Regions from separate parts of the Homo sapiens genome. Here regions 2, 3, 4, 5, 6 and 7 are each reported to be linked to region 1. The links are microRNA targets in miRTarBase. Many come from high-throughput screens and were not tested one by one. Region 1 holds a microRNA gene; each other region holds the end of a gene's coding sequence.

The links. The annotated mature microRNA hsa-miR-185-5p reads UGGAGAGAAAGGCAGUUCCUGA and lies in region 1 at 1,453-1,474, shown strand. An mRNA with a match to its seed (bases 2 to 7 or 8) in the 3' UTR can be bound and repressed. Matches are read on the target gene's strand: a 7mer-m8 pairs with bases 2 to 8, a 7mer-A1 pairs with bases 2 to 7 and ends in A, and an 8mer does both.
Region 2: miRTarBase lists RALBP1 as a target of hsa-miR-185-5p. Seed matches in the 3' UTR shown: 7mer-m8 at 919-925.
Region 3: miRTarBase lists USF3 as a target of hsa-miR-185-5p. Seed matches in the 3' UTR shown: 7mer-m8 at 3,418-3,424 and 8mer at 3,529-3,536.
Region 4: miRTarBase lists FAM53C as a target of hsa-miR-185-5p. Seed matches in the 3' UTR shown: 7mer-m8 at 1,355-1,361.
Region 5: the mRNA of PTK7 is a reported target of hsa-miR-185-5p. Seed matches in the 3' UTR shown: 7mer-m8 at 2,846-2,852.
Region 6: the mRNA of COPB1 is a reported target of hsa-miR-185-5p. The part of its 3' UTR that is shown has no 7-base or 8-base seed match.
Region 7: the mRNA of MRAS is a reported target of hsa-miR-185-5p. Seed matches in the 3' UTR shown: 7mer-A1 at 648-654.

Annotation. Positions count from the first base shown.
Region 1 is chr22:20,031,701-20,035,765 of GRCh38, forward strand. MIR185 (microRNA 185) reads left to right here and starts at 1,439; the gene lies at 1,439-1,520. The region is part of intron 1 of TANGO2 (transport and golgi organization 2 homolog); the gene reads left to right. RefSeq lists enhancers at 1-149, 584-803, 2,487-2,556.
Region 2 is chr18:9,535,578-9,539,642 of GRCh38, forward strand. RALBP1 (ralA binding protein 1) reads left to right here. Exons shown (of 10, transcript NM_006788.4): 10 at 94-2,537. The coding sequence ends at 360. Among named protein-coding and RNA genes, the nearest start is that of RALBP1, 62 kb to the left of the region's middle.
Region 3 is chr3:113,651,554-113,655,618 of GRCh38, reverse strand. It overlaps USF3 (upstream transcription factor family member 3), which reads left to right. Exons shown (of 7, transcript NM_001009899.4): 7 at 1-4,065. The coding sequence ends at 675. Among named protein-coding and RNA genes, the nearest start is that of USF3, 43 kb to the left of the region's middle.
Region 4 is chr5:138,346,508-138,350,572 of GRCh38, forward strand. It overlaps FAM53C (family with sequence similarity 53 member C), which reads left to right. Exons shown (of 5, transcript NM_016605.3): 5 at 195-3,222. The coding sequence ends at 452. Among named protein-coding and RNA genes, the nearest start is that of KDM3B, 4.1 kb to the right of the region's middle.
Region 5 is chr6:43,160,222-43,164,286 of GRCh38, reverse strand. It overlaps PTK7 (protein tyrosine kinase 7 (inactive)), which reads right to left. Exons shown (of 20, transcript NM_002821.5): 20 at 2,572-3,566. The coding sequence ends at 3,406. Among named protein-coding and RNA genes, the nearest start is that of SRF, 9.0 kb to the left of the region's middle.
Region 6 is chr11:14,454,105-14,458,169 of GRCh38, reverse strand. COPB1 (coat protein complex I subunit beta 1) reads left to right here. Exons shown (of 22, transcript NM_001144061.2): 22 at 287-658. The coding sequence ends at 346. Among named protein-coding and RNA genes, the nearest start is that of COPB1, 44 kb to the left of the region's middle.
Region 7 is chr3:138,401,645-138,405,709 of GRCh38, reverse strand. It overlaps MRAS (muscle RAS oncogene homolog), which reads right to left. Exons shown (of 6, transcript NM_001085049.3): 6 at 177-3,540. The coding sequence ends at 3,441. Among named protein-coding and RNA genes, the nearest start is that of ESYT3, 31 kb to the left of the region's middle.

The DNA of each region.
Region 1 (4,065 bases):
ATCACCAGCTTGCCCAGGGACCTCTTGCACCCTGGCGGGGATCAGCAGATCCTGCTATGAGAGAGCAGAAGGCAGCATGCTGACTTCCAGGAGTGTCCACAGCGTGGCTGGGCAGAGCAGAGCTACAAATGAACAGATCCAGTGCCGAGGCCATCCTGACTCTCTCAGGGGCTGCCAGGCCGTGGGTGCAGGGTCCAGCAGGCCCACTTGATCCCAGCATCCCACGTGTGCCTGCTCGGGGTGGCCAGCTCACTGCTTCTTCACCTCTAGCCCAACCAGCAGGTGCCCCACCATGAGCCCCTCCAGGCTCACCTTGCCCATCCCTGCCATGTGACCTGGGACTCTTGAGATGAGATCACAGCTGCAGAGCACACAGCACAGGGAGGAGCTCATCAGCATCTTCCCACCTGTGGTGCCCTGGCCCAGCCTCCTTCCGGTTGGGGTTGGACCCGCCCTGGCAGCCAGGTTTTGCGTCACCTGCCCCACCCGCCCTGTAACCTACTTGCCCAACTGCTATCCCGGTGGCCGTGAGGCCAGTTGACAGAATGGAGAGGGGTAAGCATTTTCCGCCTGGAGAGGATGGGCGTGTGGCCATCTGACTGCTTCTGCAAGCCTGGTGGTTGTGTGCAGGCTGCCCTGGTGGTCTTAGCCCCTTGGGGCAGGCGGGGTCCTGTGCAGGATGCAGAGACTGGGCGTGGCTTCCTGCAGATGTTCAGATGCTTCTGGGCTGTGGCCTCTGAGACCCAGGGCAAGGCTGCTGACTGGACCCCAGACCCTCCTGCCTGCCTCTTCCTCCAGCTGCTCTTTGTGGTCTGGTTCTGGCCGCCTGGGCCTCAGGGCCAACCCTGCATGGCTTTGACCACTCTGGCCTTCTTGGACTGCCAAGGACATGCTGAGAGTTGGTTGGGCTTGGCCCAAGTGCTGAGCCCAGGGCAGGGGTGGGGACAGGCAGGGCGGAGCCTCACCTGGAAAGCCAGGCACGATTCTCCCTGGGACACCAACCCTCCTGTAGAGTTGGCCAATTCGGGCAACCTTGAGGGCGAGCTCTGTGTGGCACAAGAGATGCCCTGAGGAGCCCAGCCTCACCTGGTGTGATGGGACCTGTGGAAGTTGTGGGAAGTGGTCCTGGCCACCCGTGTGCCCACATGCCCTGCGCCCAGATCAAGATATGGTGACCAAAAGGACAAGGACTATATCCATGGCTCCCTCCCAGAGCCTGGCAAGTCAGCAGGCATGAGAGGGTGTTGGAATGCTGTGGTGGGCCTGTGTGGGGACCTTGTAGGACCTAGGGAACCTGCAGGGCTTGGCTTAGGGAGCACACAGGGGCCCAGGCAAAGGCAAGGTCACAGGTCGGGGGAGGTGAAGCTGGCAGGGGGAGGGGGAGACCTGCTGGCTAGAGCTGGGTTGGGGGCCGGTGGGCAGTGGGCCTGGCTCGAGCAGGGGGCGAGGGATTGGAGAGAAAGGCAGTTCCTGATGGTCCCCTCCCCAGGGGCTGGCTTTCCTCTGGTCCTTCCCTCCCAATGACCGCGTCTTCGTCGAGGCCACAGCCCTTGGCTCTGCGCCCACACCTCCAGTGCCAGGCTGTCCGGAGATCTGTTTATGGCCTTCCCTTGGACCATGGAGCCCTCCCTGCCACTGGTGCCTGGAGGGCTGGTCTGCTGCCCCTGCACCCTGGCCAGCTAGGATGGTGGGGTCCTGCAGCTGAACTGGGGGTGCCTTTCTGCCTGTCTGTCCTACGTGTATCAGTGGCCAGAACTGCCCTCATCCATGGCCTTGCCAGCAGCTGGGCGTGCAGCCCAGGGAGGGCTGAGGTCGGCTGAAGTTGATTGAGACCAACGGCCTTCTCTAACACCCCAGAGGAGCATGTCCCTGGTGAGCAGGCCTTGGGCAGCCCTGGGCTCCAGGCCAGTGGGATTCCAGTAGAGACCAGCTGGCAGGGCTTCTCCAGTGACTGCAGCCAGGGGTTCTCATGTGCAGGAAAGACCAGCTCCTCCAGAGTAAAGGGACTTGTGTCTTCTGGCCACATGGTGAGTGCTGGGCCCACCCCATCAGTGGCACCTTGGGTGCACTCCCAAAGCCCAGCGTGTTCCCCATCTTCCTGCACTGCATTCGGGATGGTTCTGCATCATCAGCTGCACCTGATTGCTCTTAAACCCACAGCTGAGCTTTAATGTGCAGTCACTGAAGCTTTCATTTCTAAAATAGCTTCCTAAGAGTTCTTTTGGCCAGGCATGGTGGCTCATGCCTGTAATCCTAACACTTTGGGAGGCCGAGGTGGGTGGATCACCTGAGGTCAGGAGTTGGAGACCAGCCTGACCAACATGGAGAAACCCCGTCTCCACTAAAAATACAAAATTAGCTGGGCGTGGTGGCGCATGCCTGTAATCCCAGCTACTCGGGAGGCTGAGGCAGGAGAATTGCTTGAACTCGGGGGGCGGAGGTTGCGGTGAGCCGAGATTATGCCAGCCAGCCTGGGCAACAGGAGCAAAAACAAAACAACAACAACAAAAAAAAACCGAGTTCCTTTTGCTGCTTTGTAAACCCAGTTTGCTCTTCATCACTTCCTTTGCCCTGCAGATGTTTCTGAGCTGTCTGTTTTCTTTCTGCCATCAGAGCATGGTTGGTTGATGATGCATGTACGGTTATCTTTCTGCTGGTTCTTGCTCATGGTGCTTCTTTCATTATGTGGTTCTTTCTGACTATGTACTGCTTCTGGTCTTTGAAAAATGATTTTGAGACTTCTTTGAAGTATAGGATGAAGGTATCTTTCTCCAGAGAGAACTTCAGGCACAGGGGCACTACGAGTGCTGGAACCCCTTAAAACTGTGCTTGGCTTGTGGGTCCTTGTACCCCCAGTGTGGACCTGGACGGCTGGCTGTGCCACAGCTTCTCAGAAACTTCCCTTCACTTATGTGCAATGTCCCCATAACCCCTGGGGGTGGCTGCGGCTGTAGTTCATCTCTCCCTAAGCATCGCTCTTTGGAGTCCCAGCCTAACTTAGAGGAGAGTCTTCTGTTAGGTTCTTCATCCTGTGGGGGTGACTGGACCTTGTCTTCTGTCTCCTTCGCCCCCGAGGCCACCAGAGTATGAGCCCCAGTGTGTTCAGTGGGCAAACGCTCTCAGGCAGGATTGGCCACTGTGTTCTGCTGTCCTCTGTGGGCCACGCTCTCCGAACTGTTGGCCAAATGCTGCATGAGCTCATCAGCTCCTGGCAATTTTTAAGATGTTTTCATATTTCATCCAGCATCTTGAGTTGTTTTTACCAAAAGGATTGCCCCTAGTAGCCTGCCCACCCTCGGATGATGGCCCCCTGTGGGCGCTTCCAGGGCACCCGGCAAGGGGACCCAACCCACTTCCAGCCCCACAGTCTGCTTCCCACAGGGCCCCCTTGCAACAACACACCCTTTAGCTTCCCATCCTATGCAGAGTGGTGGCCAGCAGACCATCTCAAATGGCTGCCCATCCCCCTGACCCAGTGCGTCTGCACGTGGCGCTTATTGCTATCCCAATACTTCAACTGCACAGCCACCAGCTCCTCACTGGAGCAGATGGTCCCCAATGGCCATCCCTAATGCCCGTGCCTATGGAGGCACATACACTGAGCCCTCTTCACCTCCGTCCCCACTCATTAGACTTTTCTCAGAGGAATCTTTTTGGGTCTCTTCAGTATTTGAACAGCTTCTTGGCTGTCCCATGTCCCAGCTGTGAGCACTGGCTCTGCCCTGGAGCCGTGTCACTAAATCATTGCACATGTGCACATTTCAGGGAACTTGGGTGTCACCCTTGGGTGGCCTCGGAATCTAATCTCCGTTCTGCACTCGTTTGCATTGTGGAAAACTGCCTGCTCTGGGCCCCAGAGGTCCCTGGGTGGGGACGAGGTGTATGCTAAGTGTGCAGTCACCCAGCGTGTCCCCGGCACGTGTCCATGCCAGCTGCTGTGGGTGTGTGGGGCCTTCGGGTCCTGTGGGATGGCGAGTGTGTGTGCTGAGCAGGACCTGTAGGGCCTGCATCCCAGGTGAGTGGGCCATGCTGTTGGAGGCGGAGGCAGGGCTGCCCCCACTGGTG
Region 2 (4,065 bases), not on the chromosome of region 1:
TCTGTAGGATGCCCTTGCTAACCGCGCTCTGCTCCTGAGAAATCGTCCTCTGACTTCCTTAAGTGATAACTGCCCTTTCTGTCATTCCCCAAGATAAAGAACAATCATTTGAATCAAGCAATTCATGAGGAGCGCGAGGCCATCATCGAGCTGCGCGTGCAGCTGCGGCTGCTCCAGATGCAGCGAGCCAAGGCCGAGCAGCAGGCGCAGGAGGACGAGGAGCCTGAGTGGCGCGGGGGTGCCGTCCAGCCGCCCAGAGACGGCGTCCTTGAGCCAAAAGCAGCTAAAGAGCAGCCAAAGGCAGGCAAGGAGCCGGCAAAGCCATCGCCCAGCAGGGATAGGAAGGAGACGTCCATCTGAGCAGCCTGCGTGGCCGTCTGGAGTCCGTGAGACTGAAAGGACCCGTGCATCTTACTGTAACCCGGGGGCCAGGCCGGCTCTCTCGCTGTACATTCTGTAAAGGTGTCTTCTCTTCTCAGACTCTTCCTCTGTCACACGTCTGACTCCTTCACGTCAGGCTCAGGTTCCATGGGAGGACGAAGCAGTGGACGCATTGTGGGCTTTAGGGACAGATGAGTTTTCCAGATAGTGTCAGCTTATTTGAAGATTAATTTTCTTTGTTAACTTAAAATAACTATTTTAACCCTTGAGTGGCTTCTTTTTAAACCAAAAACCGTCTTTCTTTGCTTTTTTATCACAGCAGAATCAGGATCTCTTTCTCATTCAAGGGGGGAACCACCCCAGGTCAGCGCTGCGCCTGCTGTGGCCGCCGCGAGCCACGCCCTCTGGGATCTCTGGTACCGTCACTCTTGCTTGTGCCTTCCACACCTTCTCGGTGCAGATCCCTATGGGGGAGCTGCCTCACGTTCTCTGACTGGTCAGAGCAGCGCCTGGTGGGTGTTCCCTGGCCCACTCTCCTCTCTCCTTCTGCAGTTCTAAACCACAGTCTATAAGCCCGAGTCACCAGGACGGCCTGTCTGGCCACAGACAGGGGCTGCCTGTGGAGCCTGCCCACCGGCCCCCGGCAGTGCAGTCCAGCGGGGAGGAGGCTGCCCGTTCCTGCCAGTTCCTCACTGCGGGGACCAGCAAAGGCCTTCTCACTGGGTTGGTCAAAGGTAGTCACCTTGGCCTGGTGCATCCACAGAGGATGTTGTTCAAACCAGAAATCTTTTAAACGACTGACCTTCCTTAAAAACAGAATGACTCCGATTGCTTGCTTGGGCTAGAATGTACACGTCTCCTTGCCTGAATAAGCCATATATATGCTCTTAAACAAAAGTTTGAAATTATCCATATCATCTCAGTGAACCTACTGGTGGACTCCCAATTGACAAGATTGAGCAATAGAAAAAAATTCCTTTCCTTTGAATGATAGCTGTGATTCACCCCACCCCATTTTCTTGTTTCTGGTCCATCCGATGAGACGGATGCTCTGATGCTCTGAGGCTTCTGGGAGGCTGGGCCCTGGAGGCAACGTGCTGCAGGCGCACTCTGTCAGAGTGAACAGCACCGCGAGACAGGCCAGGCTCGTGGCTCGGAAGACAAACCCCACACACACTCAAGGGGTCGAAAACAAACCCCACACGAGGGCTCTCACCTCCTTCTCCTAGGTAGTATTTATTTTCAGCACCTGTTTGATGCAGTTTTTAATCCTCTACCTATTGCACTGTTGTGACTCGTTGGCCATTATTTGATTTTTGTACGAAAAAAAGCTTTGTTATAGAAATCAGCATACTATTTTTTTAAATCTGGAGAGAAGATATTCTGGTGACTGAAAGTATGGTCGGGTGTCAGATATAAATGTGCAAATGCCTTCTTGCTGTCCTGTCGGTCTCAGTACGTTCACTTTATAGCTGCTGGCAATATCGAAGGTTCCTTTTTTGTTTGTGTAAACTCTAATTTCTATCAAGGTGTCATGGATTTTTAAAATTAGTATTTCATTACAAATGTCTCAGCATTGGTTAACTAATTTTTGCCAGGACCATTATTGATCAAGCAAATAAATTCAACAGCCATTTGGGAAAAAGAAAAGCTTCTAGTTTTTTTGTACACATTCTTTCTGTGAGGAGATTGAGTACTCTGCAGCTGGCGAGGAGTTGGTTGAGGCACTTCTTCAAGGCCAAGGGGGAACACAGTGTTTTGTTTCCAGCTCACTTTGTACCCCTCACCTCTGCAGACACGGGGAGAACCCCGGACCCCTGGCATGCATGCTGGCGGCGGCATGCCTCCCTTCCACAAGCCCATGCTGCTGCAGAGGGAGCCTGTGTTTGCAAAACCCAGTGGACTGGGCTGGGTCTGCTGTCTGAGCAGCTCCTGGCTCCGGTGGGAACTGCACACAAGTCCACTGGCCTGGCTTGGCCCCAGGCATTGCAATTGACAGACATTTGCATTTCATACGGTAAATGAGGACTCAGCACAGCCAACCATAATCAGCATGTCTGGGATAGACTGGTCTAGAATAAAAATGAAGTTTCCATTGCTTTGTTTGCTTTAAAAATTCCACAATTAAAATATCTGTCATTGAAAGCTTAGACAAACAGCTGACTTCTCTGTTTTGTGTAGTTAAATCTATAATGTTAAATTTATATAGCTAAATTCTCCTTGATGGAAAGTCTCAAACGCCCTGATGGGGTACATTTAGCATTGGGGATCTGGAGATACTGAGGTGTGAGACCTGAGGTCACCTCCCAAGATGGGCTCTAGTGCTGTGTGATCTTTTTTTTTTTTCACTGCAGCTGTTTCTGTGAAGAGCACATTGCTTGTTATGTATTAGGATATCTTAAGAACAAACACACCTTCTGCGTCCAGCCAGGCTGAGCAAGATGCAGCCTGGGCTTTCTGGAGCTCTCGATGGGGACCCGTGCCCAATTCCATGTGTTCAGCCTCAGCCCTGGCCCATGGTTCTCATGAGGGATAGAAGGAAAAGCCGGAGTCAATTAGCAGGCAGAGGCTTCAGCATAAGATCCCACAGCTTTTAGGGAAGGTGGGCAGTGCCCCCTGGAATGTTCTAGACTAGATCCCAGGAGACCCAGGAGACGTGATAGCAAGCCTGGGCAGAGGAGGGGGCAGAAAGCCCTTAAATGCCACATGTAGGGGCTCTTTTGCAGAGCAGGAAGAGTACTGCTGCCCGTCACATGCCGGGTCCTCCGAACCTGCAAAGTGATGGATGCTCATTCTCTGCATTCTGGTGACTTTGCTGTTACTAGACAAGCATGATTCAACAGGTGTTCAGTTCAGCCCCAGCAGATCTCGGACATCCGACCTCTGCTCCCACCGCCTAGCTCAAGTGTCAAGTGCTGTGACCGGACATCGTGCTGAGCTGTTCCCGGGTCTCGTGCTAGAAACTGGCTTCTAGACAAACAGTGCGGGTACTGGAAGGAACGTGGACTTTAGGCAGGAAAGGCTTTTTTTATTTGTTTGTTTTTGGAGACAGAGTCTCACTCTGTTGCCCAGGTTGGAGTGCAGTGGTGTGATCTCAGCTCACTGCAACCTCTGCCTCCCAGTTCAAGCAATTCTCCTGCCTCAGCCTCCCAAGTAGCTGGGACTACAGGTGCACACCACTACCATGCCTGGCTAATTTTTTGTATTTTAGTAGAGACGGGGTTTTACCGTATTGCTCAGGCTGGTCTTGAACTCCTGAGCTCAGGCAATCCACCCACCTCGGCCTCCCAAAGTGCTGGGATTATAGGCTTGAGCCACCGCACCCAGTGTAGGCAGGAAAGTCTGGGTTTTCTTCATAACCTTCAAAAGCAGTCTTGTTGAACTTCAGTTTTTTCATTGGCAAAATGGTGGAGATAATCTTGATTTCCAAAGGCTGCTTAGATAAATAATGGCTAGTAAGTACCTGGCATAGGGCTTTTGGCGTCATACTCCAATTCATTTTCCCTACAGGACATGATCCGTGACTTAGTCATCATGTTATTAACATTAAACTTTATAGTGCAGAGATGAGTCGGGGAAGAAAGAACGTAGCATTCTTTAAGATGCAGGTTTCATTTCTCAGCCTCAAGGCTCAGCTACAGAATAAGCTGTGGCCCGACTGCCTGCCTACCATTTTACAGACGG
Region 3 (4,065 bases), not on the chromosome of region 1:
ATGATTCTTGGACGTCAACAACCTGCCACAGAGAAGAGAGGAAGTATTGTTCGTTTCATGCCTGATAGCCCACAAGTACCTAATGATAATTCAGGTCCTGACCAGCATACACTATCACAAAATTTTGGTTTTTCTTTTATTCCTGAGGGTGGCATGAATCCACCAATAAATGCTAATGCTTCTTTCATTCCACAGGTTACTCAGCCTAGTGCCACTCGAACTCCAGCCCTCATCCCGGTAGATCCGCAAAATACTCTGCCCTCCTTCTATCCTCCATACTCTCCTGCTCATCCTACACTGTCCAATGATATTTCAATCCCCTATTTTCCTAATCAGATGTTCTCAAATCCTAGCACAGAGAAGGTAAACAGTGGAAGTTTAAATAACCGATTTGGATCAATTTTATCTCCTCCCAGACCTGTTGGGTTTGCTCAACCAAGTTTTCCTCTTCTCCCAGATATGCCACCAATGCACATGACCAACTCTCACTTATCCAATTTTAATATGACATCTTTGTTTCCAGAAATAGCCACAGCGCTTCCTGATGGCTCAGCAATGTCACCTTTGCTTACAATAGCAAATTCCTCTGCCTCTGACTCTTCCAAGCAGTCCTCAAACAGACCTGCCCATAACATAAGCCATATTCTAGGTCATGATTGCAGTTCAGCTGTTTAAATACTGATAAACAAAATGTAAAGGTAATGAGTGAGATTACAAATGTATTTGTGCGTGCATGTGCACAGACATGTACATGAAGAGAAGGATTGTGTGTGTGTGTCTGTATAATCAGTTTTCAGTTATCTTCTGAATGTAGGGAAGCCATGTCAGATGCAGATACTGGGTTGTCAGAAAACAAGTTATCTTTCGTTTTCAACTGCATGGTGTACTTTTTTATTTTCCAAGTAGATTTACATTTCCAAGTTGATATTTCCTAAATACTAATTAGCTGGAAATTGGGGGAGATCATCTTGTCATGTACTGGGTAGTAGGAGGGAGCCTAGACTTTAAACTTGATTGTTGATAACTTATGGAATATGTAGGTAAGTTGCTACTGAAAAATATAGGCAGCTTGATAAAACACAGTGGCTCATAATCAAGTGCTGGCTAATGTCAGCATCTAGAACAGCTTCTTACCTATGACAGATGTTGAACTGATGTTGAGTTTAATGTCCGTAGTTAAAGTCAAGCAGTTAGCAAATAAATAAAAGCAATCAGCCTTTATTCTCAAAGTTTGGTTTAGATACAGGCTTCTTTCTAAATTATAACAATGCATAAATTATCTGAATTTTATGTCTTGTTCTTCAAATTAGGGAGCTGTGTTACCCTTTAATGTGCCAAGATTATTTAAAGCAAAGGTCTTCCTTAGACAATTATTTAGCCGTAAATATAGAAAGCTAAAAAGTTAAGTACATACATATTCTCCGTTTTGTGCTTGCATTTTGCATCGGGTCATAAGGGTAAAAGCAGTTAGTTGTATTGTGGAGTTTTGCATGGGTGCAGTTAACAATGGATGTTTCATCAGCTGAGTTTAATTTAGTATTCTCTCTTCATTCTATTTATTTGGTCTTGAAATAAATTCTTTTGCATTCATTTAAATATTAGGATTGATCAGGAAATAGTGTTTGTAATCTACACGTTTATTTGAGCCTTACTTTAAAAATATTTCTGAACAGAGATTTAAGCTCTGTCAGTATTTTCATTTACTGATAGCATTTATATTTTAAATATGGCATTGTATATTTCATTATTATCCTTCATAACAGAATTATAATGAGAATATGAATTTGTTATTTTTCTTGTTGGTAGATGTGAAATGGTGCTTCAAAAAATATATAGTCTTTCTGTATGTCTCTGTGTGTGTAAGTATGTGTGTGTGTGTGTACACATATTTTAAAGTATGAATTGGTCCTTTAAAAACAGGCCTGCCATCTGAAAATGGGAAATTGAGACCTGAGACCTGCTAAAGCATAGAAGAACTTGATATAGGTAGGGTTTTTTTTTTTTTTTTTTTTTTAATAGATGGAGTCTGGCTCTGTTGCCCAGGCTGGAGTGCAGTGGCGTGATCTCAGCTCACTGCAAGCTCCACCTCCCGGGTTCAAGTGATTCTCCTGCCTCAGCCTCCTGTGTAGCTGGGACTACAGGCACGTGCCACCACACCTGGCTAATTTTTGGTACTTTTAGTAGAGACGGGGTTTCACCGTGTTAGCCAGGATGGTCTTGATCTCCTGACCTCGTGATCCACCTGCCTCGGCCTCCCAAAGTGCCAGGATTACAGGCATGAGCCACCGTGCTTGGCCTAGGTACAGGTTTTTAAAAGCCCCACAGAAGTTTATAATACGTTTAAAAACCCATATTAAAATTTGAAAACTTAAAAAAAAAACTAAGAAAACAATGGCATATATTCCTTTTCTTAAACCTGTGAAGTCCATTACTTTTTGTTCTTGTTATATTCTGCCAAAAATGGGATGGGGTGGGAGAGATGCATAGAAATTGTTTTATCTGCCTTGTTAACAAAGTGAACTCAAGGACCAGCTTTTCTTTTCTTTCTTCTTTTCTTTTTTTTTTGAGACTCTGTCACCCAGGCTGGAGTGTCGTTAGGTGCAACTAACACCAGGAACAGCACCTTGAATATTCCTTTTTCAAGTTCCTCTTCCTCAGGAGATATTCAAGGTCACTTTGTCACCCAGGCTGGAGTCTACAATGGCAGGATCTTGGCTCACTGCAGCCTCTGCCTCCTGGGTTCAAGCAAATTCTTGAGCCTCAGCCTCCCGAGTAGCTGAGATTACAGGTCTGTGCCACTACACCTGGCTAATTTTTATATTTTTAGTAGAGACGGGGTTTCACCATCTTGGCCAGGCTGGTCTTGAACTCCTGATGTCAGGTGATCCACCCACCTCGGCCTCCCAAAGTACTGGAATTACAGGCATGAGTCACCCCTCCCAGGCCCCCCCCTTTTTTTTTAATCCTAAAAAGCTTCCTAAGGGTTGGTCAGAGCAGTTAACTCCAGTGAATACCTCTTCTAAAGACTCAGCAAAAGGGTCATTTGTGCCTCTTTAACTGTTCTTACCAAACTGTCCTGTCTCTTTTCTGCTGCCAACTAAGCAGCTTCCTAGGGACAAAAAAATATACAATATTTTTTTTTTTCTTGCTTACAAAGCAAGAACAACCTGTATTTTCTTTCTTCAAAATGGTCTTGGGGAAGAATAGGAGAGCTTCATGAATAAGTTACTCAAGACAACAGATAAACACAGTAGTCAAAACTTTTTATTGAGGAAAAATGTGGCATTTATGACTTGCTTTTTAATTCTCTTAACTGAATTTTAAGCTGCAACGTTCAAATTTTTCTTTGTACTTGAAAGGTCCAGTGTGCCAATTTCAAGAAGGACAGTTTTCCATGTGTTTGGCTATTCATTTCCCTCTCTCCCTCTCTCATCTGTCTGTCTCTCACTGCCTCTGTCTCTGTCTCTCATACACATATACACACACACACACACACACACACACACACACTCTCTCTCTCTCTCTCTCTCTCTCCAGTGGCTGTTAAGTTCTGAAGGACTGGGGACTGCTAGACATAATTGAAAGTAAGGTAACAGGCTAAGGAGAAGCTCAGTTTGAACATTGCAATGTAAAGTCCTCAAAGCCTGTGACTTTCAAGTATTTCTGTTGCATTAATTGTATTTTCCTGCTTAGCTGTGTTCAGACATAGTATTTGCATTTCTTGGAGCTTTCATTCCAACAGTCTAACATTTTGATCTTGAAAGAGTCTCAATAAGCCTTATTTGACCATCTGAGGAAAAATGTGACCATCTGTGAATAATTGGCTCCTGCTTACGTGTAGCTCTCATTACTTTACAGATGTATGCATGTGTATGTAAGACTTCAGTTCATACATGGCTTAATTCTGAAAGTGTTCAGACCATAGTACCCTTATTTGATTTAAAAGCATGAATATATGAGATTTACTAGCAGTATTAAGTATTTGATAGAGCTACGTGATTTTTGGGAAGAAATTTGTTATATGGTATGTAGTGTTAATTTGGATATAATTTTTGGTAAAGGGAT
Region 4 (4,065 bases), not on the chromosome of region 1:
CAGCTACTGGGGAGGCTGAGGCAGGAGAATGGCGTGAACCCGGGAGGCAGAGCTTGCAGTGAGCCAAGATCACGCCACTGCACTCCAGCCAGGGTGACAGAGTGAGACTCCGTCTCAAAAAAAAAAAGTTTACAAACCTCACCCTAAAGAATTCTTGCCTTCAGGTGTAACTGTCTTCTTTGTTTGTTTGACAGAAACCATACTCAGGAGGTCTTTGTCTCCAAGAAACAGCCCGGGAAGGCAGCAGCATCTCTCCACCATGGTTCATGGCCTGTAGCCCCCCACCCCTCTCTGCTTCCTGCAGCCCCACTGGGGGTTCCTCCCAGGTGCTGAGTGAAAGCGAAGAGGAGGAGGAGGGGGCTGTGCGGTGGGGTCGGCAGGCGCTGAGCAAGCGGACACTGTGCCAGCGGGACTTTGGGGACCTGGACTTGAATTTGATTGAGGAAAACTAAAACTGAGAGGCTACTTCCTGGGGCCACACAGACTGACTCTCTCATGGCTACTAACAAGTGTCGAGTCCCCAAGGCTGGGGGCCGAGCCTGGGAATGGGGGTGAGTGGAGGGCTCCGACTCAGGGCAGCTGGAAATCTTCTCGCTCCAGCAAGCTCGACCATGCCAAGAGACTGGCCGGGACAAGATAAACGGAGCTGGTGGCGGGAGGGACAGCCCCAGAGCAGACCCTTCCTATGGCGGCCCTGAGTGTGAGTATCCCTGCCACCAAGAGAGCAATGGGCAGGGAAGGAAGGGGTCTGCCGACCCCAGCTCGGGGAATTTCACTAGCCCCTTTGCTTCAAAGGGCACTTGTGTCTTAGAATTTGGCCAGGGTGGGGGGTTGAGTCAGCCTCCTCAGAGAAACTGCGTGAGAGTGTGTGCGTGCATGGGAGTGTACTTGTGGAAAGGTGTGTTTGCGTAGCCTTAGGGAAGGAAGGCAATTGCTCCTTAACAGCAGAGTATCATGATACCCCCAGGATCTTGAGTTTTTTACAGGATGTTGGGTTTGCTCAAGGAGTCAAGAGGAGGGCACCAAGTTTTCCTTTTTTCTAAATAGCTCTGGAACCAGGCTTGTAATCCATAGCATCACCGACTCTGCAAAGGATTTCATTTTGGGGTACAGCAGGGTGTTTTAAGTGCTGTGACTTCAGCTAATGATCTTTTCTTCAGCCCCACCCCCTCCCCACTAGCTCGATCTAGTATATTGGGGAATGCAGGTGGGGGGTGTCACCATATTTTTTCTGAGCTGGCCTTTTTTTCTCATCAGATTGTCCAGGCTATATTCCACCTGCCTCTTTTGCCCTCTTGAGTAGAGTTGCACACAGCACATGGGCAACTGAAGCAGGGTTGAGGGGCTCTCTCTCTCTCTCCTCTGCTGATGGGACCCTTTTCCCCTCACCCTCTGCCCTTCTAAGTCATAGACTAGGTAGGAAGGCCCTATATTGGTCCCCAGCATCTACTGAGGCAGACCTGCAACAGAAGTGGCATTCAGTCCCCAGCAGACATGGGTGAGCTCACCCCAGCACTGCTGTTGGGAAGGTGACTGCAGGAAACCAATTCTTACAAGATCCAGGCCCAGCCTTTTTGACCTGCTTGAGAGGGAAGAAGGGGTGTTTAGCATTTAATAGTTTGCTTGTCTTCCACTCCTGCCAGGAAGTGTTTATTTGCCTCTAATTGGGCCTGAGAGACCATAGGGAGGTTGGGGCTCACTGAGGGATTGGCTGAGGATGTATAAAGCAAAGGCTGTGAGAAGCAGTTGGGAGTTTGGTTGTCATTGGATTGAATTTACTTTTTTGTTTCTCACCCGCAACTTGAGCCAGGACAGCTGGTCCAAGTGGCCACAGTGATGGGTTTAAGTACCTTGGTAGGGCTGGCACCAGTGGAAACACATACTGAAGCTGCCACCACAATAGCTTGTGAGGTTTTATCCAGCTGTGGTTAGACCCTGCATGACCAAATTTGACCTGCCCTTGTTTATGGCAAGAAGGGCATTTTTCTCTTCAATTTCCAGGGTTTCCTAGGACCCAGTTCCTCATGTAAGGGAGGAAGACCAAGGTCTTTGTGTTTTCTTCCTCATGGAATTGAACCTGACATTTTCTGGATCTCCTGCATGTCAGGAGCATCAGTGAGGCTTCAGCCTCCTCGTCTCCACTCCAGAGAGGAGGTGGCTATGTCTTCTTAAGCCTCTGGCCCTCAGAGGCTCCTCCCTATCTCCTGGCTAGTTACCACTAGGCTACCAGGTCTCTAGGGGCCTGAGAGAGGCCCTCTAGAGAATCCAGGGAAACTGTGAGCCCAGGAGTTGCCCATCTATGGTTTCATTCCTCCCCTGGCTCTTCTCCCTCTTCAGGCCATAATTTCCCTGGTGCCAATTTCTTTTCCTCCTGGGGCATCCTCATCCCAGGGCTCTCTGCTGTAGATTGGCTGTGCCAGCTTCCAACAGGTTACTGGCAATGCCAGTGAGTTTCTGTAGGCCCTAAGCTGAAGAAGTGAGGCAGTGATTCTGCCTCCATCCTGGTTTCCCCAAAGCCCCAGGGCACCATCCTTAGGGGAGAAGGTCTACAGTTATCATTATTTTAATTCCATTACTTTCAGTCTGGAAAACTAAGCTAGTCAGAACTGTCATCTTGCTTCCCAATCTAAGAACCTGTGGCCCTGGAACACTTTTCAAGAATTGGTTCATTTTGCTTTACACAGTAGATCTGTTCCAACAGTTCTGTGTAAACCAAATGCTATTTTTCAATGCATTTGGACTGCTGACCATTTAAAAGCAGCCTATGATTGCTTCTTTTTGTAAAGCAAGCAACCTCCCTCCACTTTAGCTGTTTTGACTATTTGAATTTTCACATATTGGGCTTACCCAGAGTGGAGCACACCTCCAGGGCATGTGGCTGACACTGGGTCAATGTCTGCATCTGTGCTGTGTGTGTAGTGTGGTTGGCCAGTAGGTGAGTATCCCTGTGTGTGTGAGTGAAGCCACTCCCCAGGCTGGTGCTCTCCTCCTGTGCCCAGTGACTGCCCAGTGGCAGCTCAGCTGCCCTTCACTCCCACCTGCTGCCAAAGTCCCTGTGCTAATGGGATTACAAATACAAAAAGTGGAAAAAAATTTTCGTAAACTTTGTTTTATATTAAAAGAAAAATCCATAAGTCTGTGTGTGTTAAACATGAGGTTCTGCCTCTGTGGCTGTGTTTGAAAAAATAAAGTTTTATTAGAATAATCCATTTTCCCAAGCAACCTTGTGTACTACAGTGTCTTCTTCCCTTCCCCACAAAGACAAGGAAGAAGCAGGGTAGAAGGCCACCTAACTGTTCCAGCCCCTTCATCTAAGATGTGGGTCAACCTTTCAAAAAGGGGCAGTATTTGGACCCTAGGCCCTTTGCCGGCCATGGCAGGATGTTATACTGTGGCCCAGGCTTCTGCTAAGGCCTTGGTTATTTTTGGCAGTCTGGTTTGGTCTCTCTTTCCCTGGCAGTTATACTTGTCTCCTCCTGCCTGCTGTCACTCTCACTTCCAGCAAGTTGAAGTCAAGTATGAATGCATTCCAGCTCCCTGAGAAATGGTTTATGGTACAGTCAGGAACTTGTCTAGATTGGTTTGTAGGCTTTGGGAAGTAGGGAGAAGGCAGGGTGGGAGACAGCCAGGGATCTTTCTTAAGTTTTCACATGTTACATCCTGGAGAGATAGAGGTTTAGTCATCAGAATTCAGATTCCATAGACCTAGGCAATTTTTCCATCCTAAAAATACTGCTTTTGGAAAATAATCCTAGCTGCAAAGCTTCTCTTTTGTTGTAGAAGACAGTATTTTCCCTAATGTTTCCTTTGGGAGTGTTGGTTTGCCAAAAGAAGCTATGTGGCTCACTCTTTAGACCTTTCTGTTCCACCCTTTCTTCTCTCTATGTTGACATTCTTCCAATGTGTGTGGGTGAAGTGTAGTTGCTTAGAGATCCAGGCAGGAGCCTCTGTCTCTAAGGCTTAGCCTTTCTTTACCAGTTGTGGTGCTAATTTGCCAGGCAGCAAGAAGAGTCAAGTTGCTTAGCTTATGTCCTGGTTTCCTGCTTCAAATTGGTGGCACTCATC
Region 5 (4,065 bases), not on the chromosome of region 1:
TTCTTTTTTTCCCTTTTTTTCTTTTTTAATGCTGGTTGCAAACCAGAGTTTGAAAAACACTGCTCTAGAAAAATTTTCCCTTCAACACATCTGAAGGATGTAATGCATGGTGTATACCAGTGACTATGGCTCACTTACTAGCTGTGTAACCATGGGCAAACTACCTGACTTCCCTTGAGACTCAGTTTCCTAATCTGTGAAATGGAAATAATCTCATCTGGCTAACAGAGTAGTTGCAGAGATTAAATGAGATAATGCACATTAAGTGACTAGTGCAGATAAAGTCTTCAAAAAACATTAGCTTTTCTTTTTTTTTTTTTTTTTTTTTTTGAGACAGGGTCTTGCTCTGTCACCCAGCCTGGAGTGCAGTGGTGAGAACCTCCTGGGTTCAAGAGATCCTCCCTCCTCAGCCTCCAGAATAGCTGAGACCATGGGCACACCCCCACTACCCCCAGCTAATTTTTTTTTTTTTTTTTGAGACAGAGTCTCGCTCTGTCTCCAGGCTGGAGTACCGTGGCATGATCTCGGCTCATTTTAACTTCTGCCTCCCAGGTTCAAGCGATTCTCCTGCCTCAGCCTCCTGAGTAGCTGGGACTACAGGCACGTGCCTCCATGCCCAGCTAAATTTTGTATTTTTTTTAGTAGAGACCATGTTGACCAGGATGGTCTCTCTTTTTTTTTTTTTTTTTTTTTTTGAGACAGAGTCTCACTCTGTCGCCCAGGCTGGAGTGCAGTGGTGCGATCTCGGCTCACTGCAAGCTCTGCCTCCCAGGTTCACGCCATTCTCCTGCCTCAGCCTCCCGAGTAGCTGGCACTACAGGCACCCACCACCACTCCCGGCTAATTTTTTGTTTTAGTAGAGACAGGGTTTCACCGTGTTAGCCAGGACGGTCTTTATCTTTTGACCTTGTGATCCACCCGCCTTGGCCTCCCAAAGTGCTGGGATTACAGGTGTGAGCCATGGTGCCCGGCCCTACACCCAGCTAAGTTTTAAATTTTTTGTAGAGGTGTAGTCTAGCCATGTTGCCCAGGCATTTCTGTCACCTCAGCCTTTTAAAGTGCTGAGATTATAGGCATGAGCCACTGTTCCTGTGGCCTTTTATTATTATTATTTTTTGAGACAGAGTCTTGCTCTGTTGCCCAGGCTAGAGTGCAGTGGTGCAATCTTGGCTCACTGCAACCTCTGCCTCCCAGGTTCAACCGATTCTGCCGCCTCAGTCTCCCAAGCAGCTGGGACTACAGGTGTGCACCACCACGCCCAGCTAACTTTTGTATTTTTAATAGAGACAGGGTTTCACCATATTGGCCAGGCTGGTCTCAAACTCCTGACCTCGTGGATCCACCCACCTCAGGTCCCAAAGTACTGGGATTACAGGCGTGAACCACCGTGCCCAGCCGGCCTGTTTTTTTTATTTTTTTGAGACAGGGTCTCACTTGATCACCCAGGCTGGAGTGCAGTGTTGTGATCATAGCTCACTGCCACCTCAAACTTCTGGGCTCACATGATCCTCCTGCCTCAGCCTCCTCAGTAGTTAGGACTACAAGTGCATGTCGCCACACCTGGCTAATTTTTAAATTTTTTGTAGAGACAGGGTCTCACTATGTTGGCCAGGCTGGTCTCAAACTCCTGGTCCCAAGTGATCTTCCTGCCTCAGTCTCCCAAAGTATTAGGATTACAGGTGTGAACCACCATGTCCAGCCTGCTGTTATTTTTATTATTCAGAAGTTTGGTGAGGAGTAAAGGAACTAGAGCAGTTTTGGAGTTCAGGACTCGTTTCTTTTGGATGGTGAACCAGGCTGAAGTTACTGGAATGAGGCAGAGGATAGGTGAGGACACAAGATCCAGGCATTAAGCACCGTCTCTCTGCTTGGTTCTACCTACTTCACTTCCCTCCTAGGGTCTTGAAAGGACTCAGAGACCTGAGTCTGTCACTAACTCCTTCTCCAATCCTACTCTAACTTGCTCCCCTTCACGCTTCTACCCTCCCCATCTGAGCACAAGGATTAGGCCCGTCTAGGTGACAGTCAGAGGACAGCACAGGGTTGCACAGACAACAGGTGATCTTGCCTTCTTCATGCCTGCATGCTCACCTGCCCTGCAAACTGGAGAGAAGAACCAATATCCACCGGTTCATCCTGTCCAAGCCCCACCAGACTCCATGAAGGCACATGGCCCTTTCATTTTTCTCTTTTTTTTTTTGTTTTTTTTTAGACAGAGTCTCGCTGTCACCCAGGCTGGAGTGCAGTGGTGTGATCTCGGTTCACTGCAACCTACATCTCCTGGGTTCAAGCGATTCTCCTGCCTCAGCCTCCCAAGTAGCTGGGATTACAGGCGCCTGCCACCATGTCCAGCTAATTTTTATATTTTCAGTAGAGACAGGGGTTTCACCTTTTTGGCCAGGCTGGTCTCGAACTCCTGACCTCAGGTGATCCACTGGCCTCAGCCTCCCAAAGTGCTGGGATTACAGGCATGAGCCACTGCACCCGGCCTGCACACGGCCCCTTCTCATCAGCGGGGGAAAAAGGAACATCTTCCACGAGCAAGAGCAGGGAATGAATCTCAGAAACAGGTTGTAAAAAAGGCTTATTTATTGAGAGCAGCGAGTGTAAAAACAAAAACAAAAACAAAAAAACAAAACAAACAAAAAACGACAACAATAAAAGTGTGGGGTAAGGATGGCCCACCCTCCTCATCTCCAGGGCCCACCCCTACCTCCCATGCCCACCCACCCCACGCTGCAATTACATATAAAAGCCGCCCGTGGTGCATACAAAAAGGGCGGTTTATATAGTGTCAAAAGCTCCTGAAAACTCCTTCATCTGCCAGGCACTTAGGATGAGGAAAGGAGAGAAGGGTGGGGAAGACGTGGGTCTGGGTCAGTGTGCACAAGCCCAGAGTGGGGAGGACTCACTTGCTGTGTCCTCTATAATCCTGGTCTAGACCCCCAAGTGGGACCAGTGGGCCAAGAGACTCATTAACCCTGTGTGCCCAGAACTTGAGAATATTAAGGAACTCCCCACAAACCCAGCTCATCCCAAGCCTAGCCCTCCCCAGGCAAAGTTGGCAGATGAGTGGCAGAGTTGGACCCGGTCAAGGGGAGAAGTTGAAGGCCAGAAATTGGGGTTACCTGTGGCACCCACACTGTCCCTGATAGAGGAAGAGGTGGCAGGGAAAACTGCCCAGCTCAAAGCCCTAGTCGCCCAGTTTGGGTCCAAGTCAGCCTCCCAAAGGATGAGGGTGAGGAAGAGGAGGAAAGGCCAGGCCCTGCTCAGACCTCAGCAATGCCTGTTGCACTAGGGCAGGGGCCTCAGGGCCCAGGAGGACAGGGATCTTGCCCATCATGCTGTGAGCTTCCCTCTAGAGATGTCCTCCCCTGCCCAGGCCATCCTGAGCGGGCTCCCTCCTCACGGCTTGCTGTCCACGGTGCTGTCTCCCAGGGCGCTGGCAATCTCACTGAAGGAGGGCCGGTCCTTGGGGCTGAGGGCCCAGCAGCGCTGCATCAGCCGATAGAGTTTGGAAGGGCAGCCCTCGGGCTGAGGAAGTCTAGCCTTCCCAGCCTGCAAATCTGTAGGGAAGACAGCAGGTGCAGTGTTGGCCAAAACATTCAACAACTTGTTCAACACTTTGTGGACCTTGCAGTTTATACAAGCAGCCACCCAAGGATGCCTCTGGGGCAATGCTGGCCAGCGGCAGGTGGGTACCCGCAACGGAAAAAGATGACTCCCCTGGCCCCACTCACTCTGGCTGGTAGGACGGGGTCCATGCATAGGAGCTGAAGTGGGCTGGCGGACAGGCGTCAGAGTGGCTGGAGTGGGCACTGGGGGCAAAGGCTATTTACCAACCAATATAGAAGTATTGCAGTATTTTCGGCCAGGTGTGGTGGCTCACGCCTGCAATCCCAGCACTTTGGGAGGCCGAGGCGGGTGGATCACAAGGTCAGGAGTTTGAGACCAGCCTGACCAACATGGTGAAGCCCCCCCATCTCTACTAAAAATACAAAAATTAGCCAGGGAGTGGAGGTGCGTGCCTGTAATCCCAGCTACTAGGGAGTCTAAGGCAGGAGA
Region 6 (4,065 bases), not on the chromosome of region 1:
AGGTGGAGGTTGCAGTGAGCTGAGATTGTGCCATTTCACTCCAACCTGGGTGACAGAATGAGACTTCGTCTCAAAAAAAAAAAAAAAAAAAAAAATCTGGTGACGGCTTGAAAAATCTAGCACTGAAAGGTAATTACCAGTAAAGTTTGGTAAGTCTGTTTGGTATGTCCTTGATTTTATTGTTGATAATGGTGTCATTGAATTGAATTGGGGCTTAATAATATGGAATAACCTACTGATTGTACATAGTTTAAATAATTATAAATATCTTAATTTTTCTTTACAGGGAATGGCCTTAAGTCTTGGAGATAAAATCAACTTGTCACAGAAGAAAACTAGTATATAAAAATAAACAAAAAGTCCTTGAAGCTTTACAGTTAATTTAGGTATGGGCTTACTGGACTCCAACATCTTTTGTACTCTTTCATGCTTATATAGAATCTGAGTTCATGCTGAATACTTTTCAGCCAATAATTTATAGCCTTTCCCTTAAATCAAGATTGAGTTTAAAATTATAGTTTGTCTTTTGTCTTAACAGTTCTGAATGCTGTCCTCAAAGTATATAATGTTTCATGTACCAAGACCCTTTTCACAGTACAATAAACAGATCTATTCATAAATTTTTGTTATTTTATAAATAAATGATTACATAATTTTAGTTATATGGCAATGGATTTCTTTTAGTTGGGTTATAAATTTCTATTATAAATTTAAATTACTGAGTTGTGAATATATGCAGCTTTATTAAGAGAATTTACAAATTCAATGATATAAAATAAGGTAGGCCTTGATTCACTTGGTTGTTTTTTACTTATTTAATATTCCAACATTGCTATCTCTAAAAATGCATTATCATGTTTTGAAGGGATTTGCTCTTGAATTTAGCTCCAGGGAGAAAGTATCAAAATAACTTTTTTTTTTTTTTTTGAGATGGAGTCTGGCTCTGTCACCCAGGCTGGAGTGCAGTGGCGTGATCTTGGCTCACTGCAAGCTCCACCTCCCGGGTTTACACCATTCTCCTGCCTCAGCCTCCCAAGTAGCTGGGACTACAGGTGCCCGCCACCACGCCTGGCTAATTTTTTGTATTTTTAGTAGAGACGGGCTTTCACCATGTTGGCCAGGATGGTCTCGATCTCCTGACCTCGTGATCCGCCCGCCTCAGCCTCCCGGAGTGTTGGGATTACAGGCGTGAGCCACCGCACCCGGCCCAAAATAACTTGAGAAAACAGATCGCTCTGCAGTTTAAAGAAGTATTATGTACCCGAACTGAAATAGATATACTGTTCTTAATTATCCTGAATCATAATGAAGAGTAGATAATCCAAAATAGATTTTTTAATCATTCACATTTAGTTTGGGGTGTTCTATGTTTGTTAGGAATAAAACTGGTTCTAACCAATTACTGAAGCTGGTACTGGGAGGATTCAACTAGAGAGGATTCAAAAAGCTGCCTTTTTCTCTGTTGCCTCCGTGCCTTACTCACATTTAGTTTAGGGTGTTCTATGTTTGTTAGGAATAAAACTGGTTCTAACCAATTACTGAAGCTGGTACTGGGAGGATTCAACTAGAGAGGATTCAAAAAGCTGCCTTTTTCTCTGTTGCCTCTGTGCCTTACTCACTCGTCTCCTTTTCCTCACTTCACACTAGGACTGGGTACCATCACACTGCAGTATAATTCCAAATGCATTTCCAAGCTAAGTTTCCCAGCGTCTGATTGTGCTTTCCTTTTGGCCTTTACTTTCATTGGGGGTGATTGAGGTAGTCTGATTTTTTAGCTAAGTCTAAACTTAAGGCTATTATTTGTCTACCAGCTAGGGTTCAGGCTGCATTCCCTGTGAGTCCTTAGATAAGGTCTGTGAAAGACTGAAAGCATCTCCTATTTCATTAAGAATGAAATGATTTGTTTGGAGTATAAGGAGATTGATACCTTGTATGATGTCATAAACTGTGAAGCCACTTGCTTTTAAAAAAAAAAAAAGAAAAAAAAAGCCTAGATTACAGGGCATTTGAGATTCCAGAACACTGAGATCTTAGAACAAAGCCAGGGCTTATCAAATGGGAAAGATATACTGGAAGTGCAGAGAAGGGATGTCGATTCAAGGGTAGAGATTTGCAATGAGAGCGAAGGAGCTGGTGCAACTTTGGATTAGATCATCATTTCCCAAACTCTGTTCTACTGAACATTAGCTTCCTTAGATGTCATTAGATATTCTGAGTGAAAAAGTAATTCCATAGTCAAGTAAGTTGGGGAAAAGCTTCAAACTGTCCTGCACTGGAGATTCACAATGTACATTAGCATACCAGAGATTCTGAGAGGAAAGCAGATTAGTTTGGTTTAACCCAGTATATCCTAACCTTACTTTACCAGGGAATCCTTTTTCCATGACCTATTGACAATATATGGGACAGGAAAAGTGACTTAGCCTGTTAATGATATTAGTGTTGTAATCACAGTTAACCAGTATCACATTTCATATCTGAAGGAATTATGCCTGTGTACATCCTAGAATATATCTCGGTTGATACTCTTAGAAAGTTGCCTGCCTGACATATTCAGGCCATTTTTGTTGGAATCAGATTGCCTCACATTGCCATTTTCTTAAATTCATAAATAAGGAGAACAAAGAAGTTAACACAATTGTCAGATACATTAAACTGTTTACTTCATTAGCATTTCATTAGCTTTGTGCATGTAATAAATGTGAACTGAATTGGATAGCAGCACATTGTTGAAAGAAGCTGTTTACACTATGCCCTGTTATTTGGGATATAATATACATTCAAAGATAGTAGCTGTTCACATTATAAGATACCATATAATTAGGACCATGATGTCCGGTAGAGAATAAACATTAAATACCAAATGAAAGCTTAATATATTAATGTATTGAATGTGGATAAACCTGTAAAGCTTACAGGAGCATTAAATGGCTTACATTGCAGTAATGTCACAACACTAGAGGGAGCTCTGTGCAGTGATTTTTTTTTTTTTTTTTTTTTTTTTTCATTTTGCAATTAGAAGAGATTGGCACTCAGTTGTTTTATAAGAAGAAAAAGGGTCAAGTGTGGTGGCTCGCACCTATAATCCCAACACTTTGGGAGGCCAAGGCTGGAGGGTGGATTGAGGCCAGGAATTCAAAACCAACCTGGGCAACATAGACCCTGTCTCTACAAAAAAATTTTACAAATTAGCCTGGTATGGTGGCATGTGCCCGGGAAGCTGAATCGGGAGAAATTCTCGGGACCAGGAGTTCAAGGCTGCAGCGAGCTATGATTGTGCCGCTGCAGTCCATCCTGGGTGACAGGGTGAGACTCCCTCTCTTTTAAAAAAAAATTTTTTTTTAAAGGAGCCTGGGCATGGTGGTTTATGCCTGTAATCCCAACACTTTCGGAGGCCAAGGTGGGAGTATCACTTGAGCCCAGAAGTTCAAGACCAGCCTGAGCAACAAAGAGATCCCCCATCAAAAAAAAAAAAATTTAAGAAAAAGCAAGATTATTTTTCCTTTTTTAAAAAACTTTTTTTTTTTTTTTTGAGACGGACTCTGGCTCTGTCACCAGGCTGGAGTGCAGTGGCACAATTGGCTCACTGCAACCTCCACCTCCCTGGTTCAAGCAATTCTCCTGCCTCAGCCTCCTGAGTAGCTGGGACTACAGGCGTGGGCCACCATGCCCAGCTAATTTTTATCTATTTTTAGTAGAGATGGGTTTTCACCATATTGGCCAGGATGGTCTCAATCTCAACCTCGTGATCTGCCTACCTCAGCCTCCCAAAGTGCTGGGATTACAGGCGTGAGCCACGGTGCCCGGCCTTTTTTTTTTTTTTTGGGACGGGGTCTGGCAGTGGTGCGATCTTGGCTCACTGCAACCTCCACCTCTCTCACCTCATCACCCGAGTAGCTGGGACCACAGGCACATGCCACCATGCCCAGCTAATTTAATTTTTGTATTTTTTGTAGAGACAGTTTTGCCATGTTGCCCAGGCTGGTCTCAAACTCCTGAGCTCAAGCAATCCATCCACATTGGCCTCTCAAAGTTTTGGGATTACAGGCGTGAGCCACTGCACCT
Region 7 (4,065 bases), not on the chromosome of region 1:
CTCCATGCAGGAAGGAGACACCCCACGGCCACCAGTGGGCTCCTCCTTACTTCAGATCTGGTTAGCACCAAGGTCATGCTCTGTAAGACGTGGATGTTCTGGGCAAAACACCAACAACTCACAATGTTCTCAGCAAAACTTCAGGAATACTGGAGTAAAAGGAACTAAGACAGATACGTGTTTCTCTTCTTTATTAATCAGTCGAGAGATACAAAGACTTAATAAAAAGTTACACAGAAGGTTCAAACATCACTGAGATCTTCAGGCATCACTCGTTTCACGACAATGGCCACCTGTTAAGACTATGAAACAGAAGCTGGGCGCTCACAGGCGCACAATAATTCAAGTATCTTTCATTCCAAGTAAACCCGACATGGAATTTCAAACACAATGGGCTGCCAATGGAGGGAACCTGTCTGTGGCTCCAGATTTGCTGTAACATGTCTGAGGGGCCTTTGGGTTAAAGTTGCCACGTTAGTGGGTCATGTCTCCTGGAAAAGTGAGACAGGCCCCACGAGGCCAGCCAGGCATTTTCCACAGCAAGTGCCATGAGAAGGAGGTGGGCAAAGTCCTAAGAGAAACCATCCAGGTGTCCCGAGTGGCAAAGTGCACAGGTAGTAAGTGGCCATTGTCCCCAGCCGTGGGAGTGGAGAGGATGGCTAGGATTATCTCTGGAAAAAAAAGAGCAGCCCTCTAAGGAGGGTGTCAAACAGTGGAAGAAATCTGAGAGCACACAATGGCAAAGGCATGGGGTGAGGGCATTTCAGGAAGGCTGTGCTCCAGGGGATGTGAGGGTAGCACTATTCTCCGGAAGACCAACGGGAACATGAGGATGTCAAACAGCCAGAAGTCCCAGTTGGCTCCTCGGTCATGGTGTGGCGTGGCCAACCAGGTTTCCCAGTCTGACCCTGCTAGATGATAATGGAGGAGAAGATGGAGGGATGTCACGGGGCACACTCTACACTCTACTCTGGCCTATCTGGAAGCTACCTCAGTCATGAGGGCCCACTTCTACAAATGGGGCATTATTTACCCATTTCATTTATGGGGAAATGAGTTCATGGGAGATGAAAGCTTACCAGAGGCTCAACAGCAGAGGATACAGAAGACCAACCCTTAACTAGTCTCTCTCAGGCACCATGGAGTTCAACGTGGGCCAAGTGCAGGATGGATGAACAGATGCACTGTCCCTTCTGTCCCAACTGTGTGGTTGAAATCCCTATGTCTTCTCACCTTTATGGCCGAGGTCTCTGTTCTACATCAGCTGATCTGCTTCCAGTGAGACTATCAAACTCAGTGCTGTCGAGGAGTTGCAGCTCCACGGTGGGCATGGGGTATGCTCGTAGTGGTTGGTGCCCAGCAGGAGTTTTCTGGCTGTGGACACTGCCCTGTGTGCAGGGCTTCTTCTCCTACTCCGCCATGCTCTTGATTCTGAGCATCTCCATCCTTACTCCTTCCTACCTGCCTTTCCTCCGCCTCACCTCCAGTTTGCAGCTGCCATCAAACTGCACACAACAAACTGCTGCAGATACCACTTAGGGAAGCATAAGGATTGGGAAGAGCTTTGTCCTTTTAGTGTTTAAAATACCTCTTAACACTATAGGGTCTAAGGAAACTTTGAAGTGCCTCACCTGGAATGTTCTCTCTTATCCTTCCTTTTAGGAACAGAAAAAGGGGCAATTTAGACAAATAAGAAGTTTGATTTCCAACAAGCAAAAGTCTCAACTGTCTCCTTTTGTAGCAGAATCATTCTCCAGCTGGGCCCCTCAGTGCTGGTGATCTTGCCGAGGTAGGAACACAGCACATTTTCAGAACCCGGGTGTCTTGGCATCCAGTTGGGTGCTCACTTTCCTTGGGTTTCTTTCTCCAGAGTGGCCAGGCCACCTGCTGAGGATATTCTAGTTTGCATAGTGACCTGATTTGTAACATCTAGAAAATAAGGTCACCAGCTGTGCTGCCTTTTATTCTGACCTTTTCTTTGGTGCAGCGTTGTTCCTGTTGTCTCTCCACTCCCACCCCAGCTGGAAAAACTCCAGTCTTTGGCTCACACCAGCAGCACCTGAGGTGGGGGGGCGGGGGTGAGCATCATCAGGGAGCTGGGGAGACTGCCCCCTTGCAGAAGGTATATGAGAGCCACACATCAGCCCAGCCTTCCTTACTTCTCAGATCATTTTATAGTCAAGATTCAACAGGTCAATAAAAATTGCCAAAAAGGCAACCTAGTACTACTTTTACAAATACTGGAAGGGGTCTGCTCATTGACTAGGCTTATAGAGGTGGTAGTCAGTTGACTCCAAGGGAAGATGGCTTCAGGTCTTGGTGCTGTTTTAGTGATAACAGTATTGAATCATTTTTGGTTAAGATCCAGCATGAACTGGAGTTTTCTGGATGGTGTCCACATTAGGTTACTTTGACGTGTCAGTGTATTCGTATCAGAGAGGCACCAAGCAGCACAGCTGATGTGAAAACGCAGCAAGAGACAGATCTGAGAAACCCAGAGCCTCCTCAGACCCCTGGGGAGGGCAGAGAACTTAACCCATACTGTCTGAAAAACAAATGAACATGTTTGCAAAGCCAATCAGCTTACTTTAGTTTATACATTTCCAGGATAATGAAAACCCCTTTTAGAACTGACATGCTCATGACAGCCACTCCCCTCAGCAAAATACAATCTGTTTTCTAATATTTGCATCCCCAACCATAGGAAAATCCTCTGGGTAAATACCTCTCTCTTCTCTCATTTCTAGGCCATGTGTAGGGTCTCTTTCCCTCCCAGGTTTGACCCATGGCCTGAGGCCTCCAGCTACAGTTCCCATTACCTTCTGTCCTCTCAGACACTCTACTTTCAGATTGAGTTGAGTTTTGGCACTGATGGGAAAACTCGGTTAAAAAACAACAACAATATTCCAGATATGTTACCAGAGAGGTCTGCTGAACACTTGAAACTTCACCAGGCAGTGAGCCCAGACCCCTTTAATAAAATAATAATCACTAAAATAATTTAAAAATCTATAAAAGACATCCAAGCTCAGACATTGTGGATGGGGGGTAAGGGAAAGAAGCTTGTTCATGGCTTGTTTTGTACTTTGTATGTGGATAAACACTTCCACATCAAACCAACACTATGTAGTTACAATAAACAACACACCCACCGAGAGAGGGGGAGGAACCGGGTTGAATCAACACATGGGGGGGCCAGGGGCACTTGGATGCTGCTTCTGCTTACAGGTGGCTTCCTTGTCTCTTTGAGAGGTGGGAAAGCCCGTGCCCTCTGGGCAAAGCCAGACCCTGTCTGCTCCCTGCCCACCTGCCCTTCTCCCTTCCTGTACCAAGTCCTTGGGCCAAGGGTTGTGGTTAGAAATGGTTTCAGTGCAGTTAGGTGGGGAGGGGTCCCGAGGGCTGGCCAGGCCACCGTCACTGTGCCCAGGGCCTCAGGCCTGTCACAAGATCACACATTGCAGTTTGTGGGTGCCTGTGGCCCGGTCTCCCCGCCATTTGGTTTTCTTCTTCTTCTTCTGGCTTTTTTCCGGAATCTGTTGCCTTTTGAAACAATGAAGGACAGAAAGACAAAGTCAGAATGGGCTTTGCTTCTCCTCTGCCCCTCTCCTCCCTAGCCCCAGATCTGAGTCAGAGGAGGCCTGTTCTGGCGGGGTTAGTGGGTGAGGGGGATGGGGATGCCATCCCTCTCCCAGTGGCTGTCCTGGCCGCTGGAGGAGGGCCTGGCAGGATAGCTTCTCTTGAGGCAATGCAATGGGGGAGATGGGGGAGGGGATAACCTAAATCGCCCTACTGATGGGAATGACTGACATTATGTTGTAGCTACATTTACATAAATCATAAGCTACATCACGTTTTGTCTTATAGAGTGCTGGCCTCTATTCCTGTGTTTCATAGTTTAAATAAAATGATGGGTCAACTGAGCGTAAAAGCCATTTCATGTTTTCTGTTAACTTTTCCTATGTCTAAAACCTGACCTTGGCACTATAGGTTCACAACCAAGGCATCACCATAGGCTACCTGATGGCAGCACATCCTAATTGGAGGCAAAATGCCCAAGAGCAAATA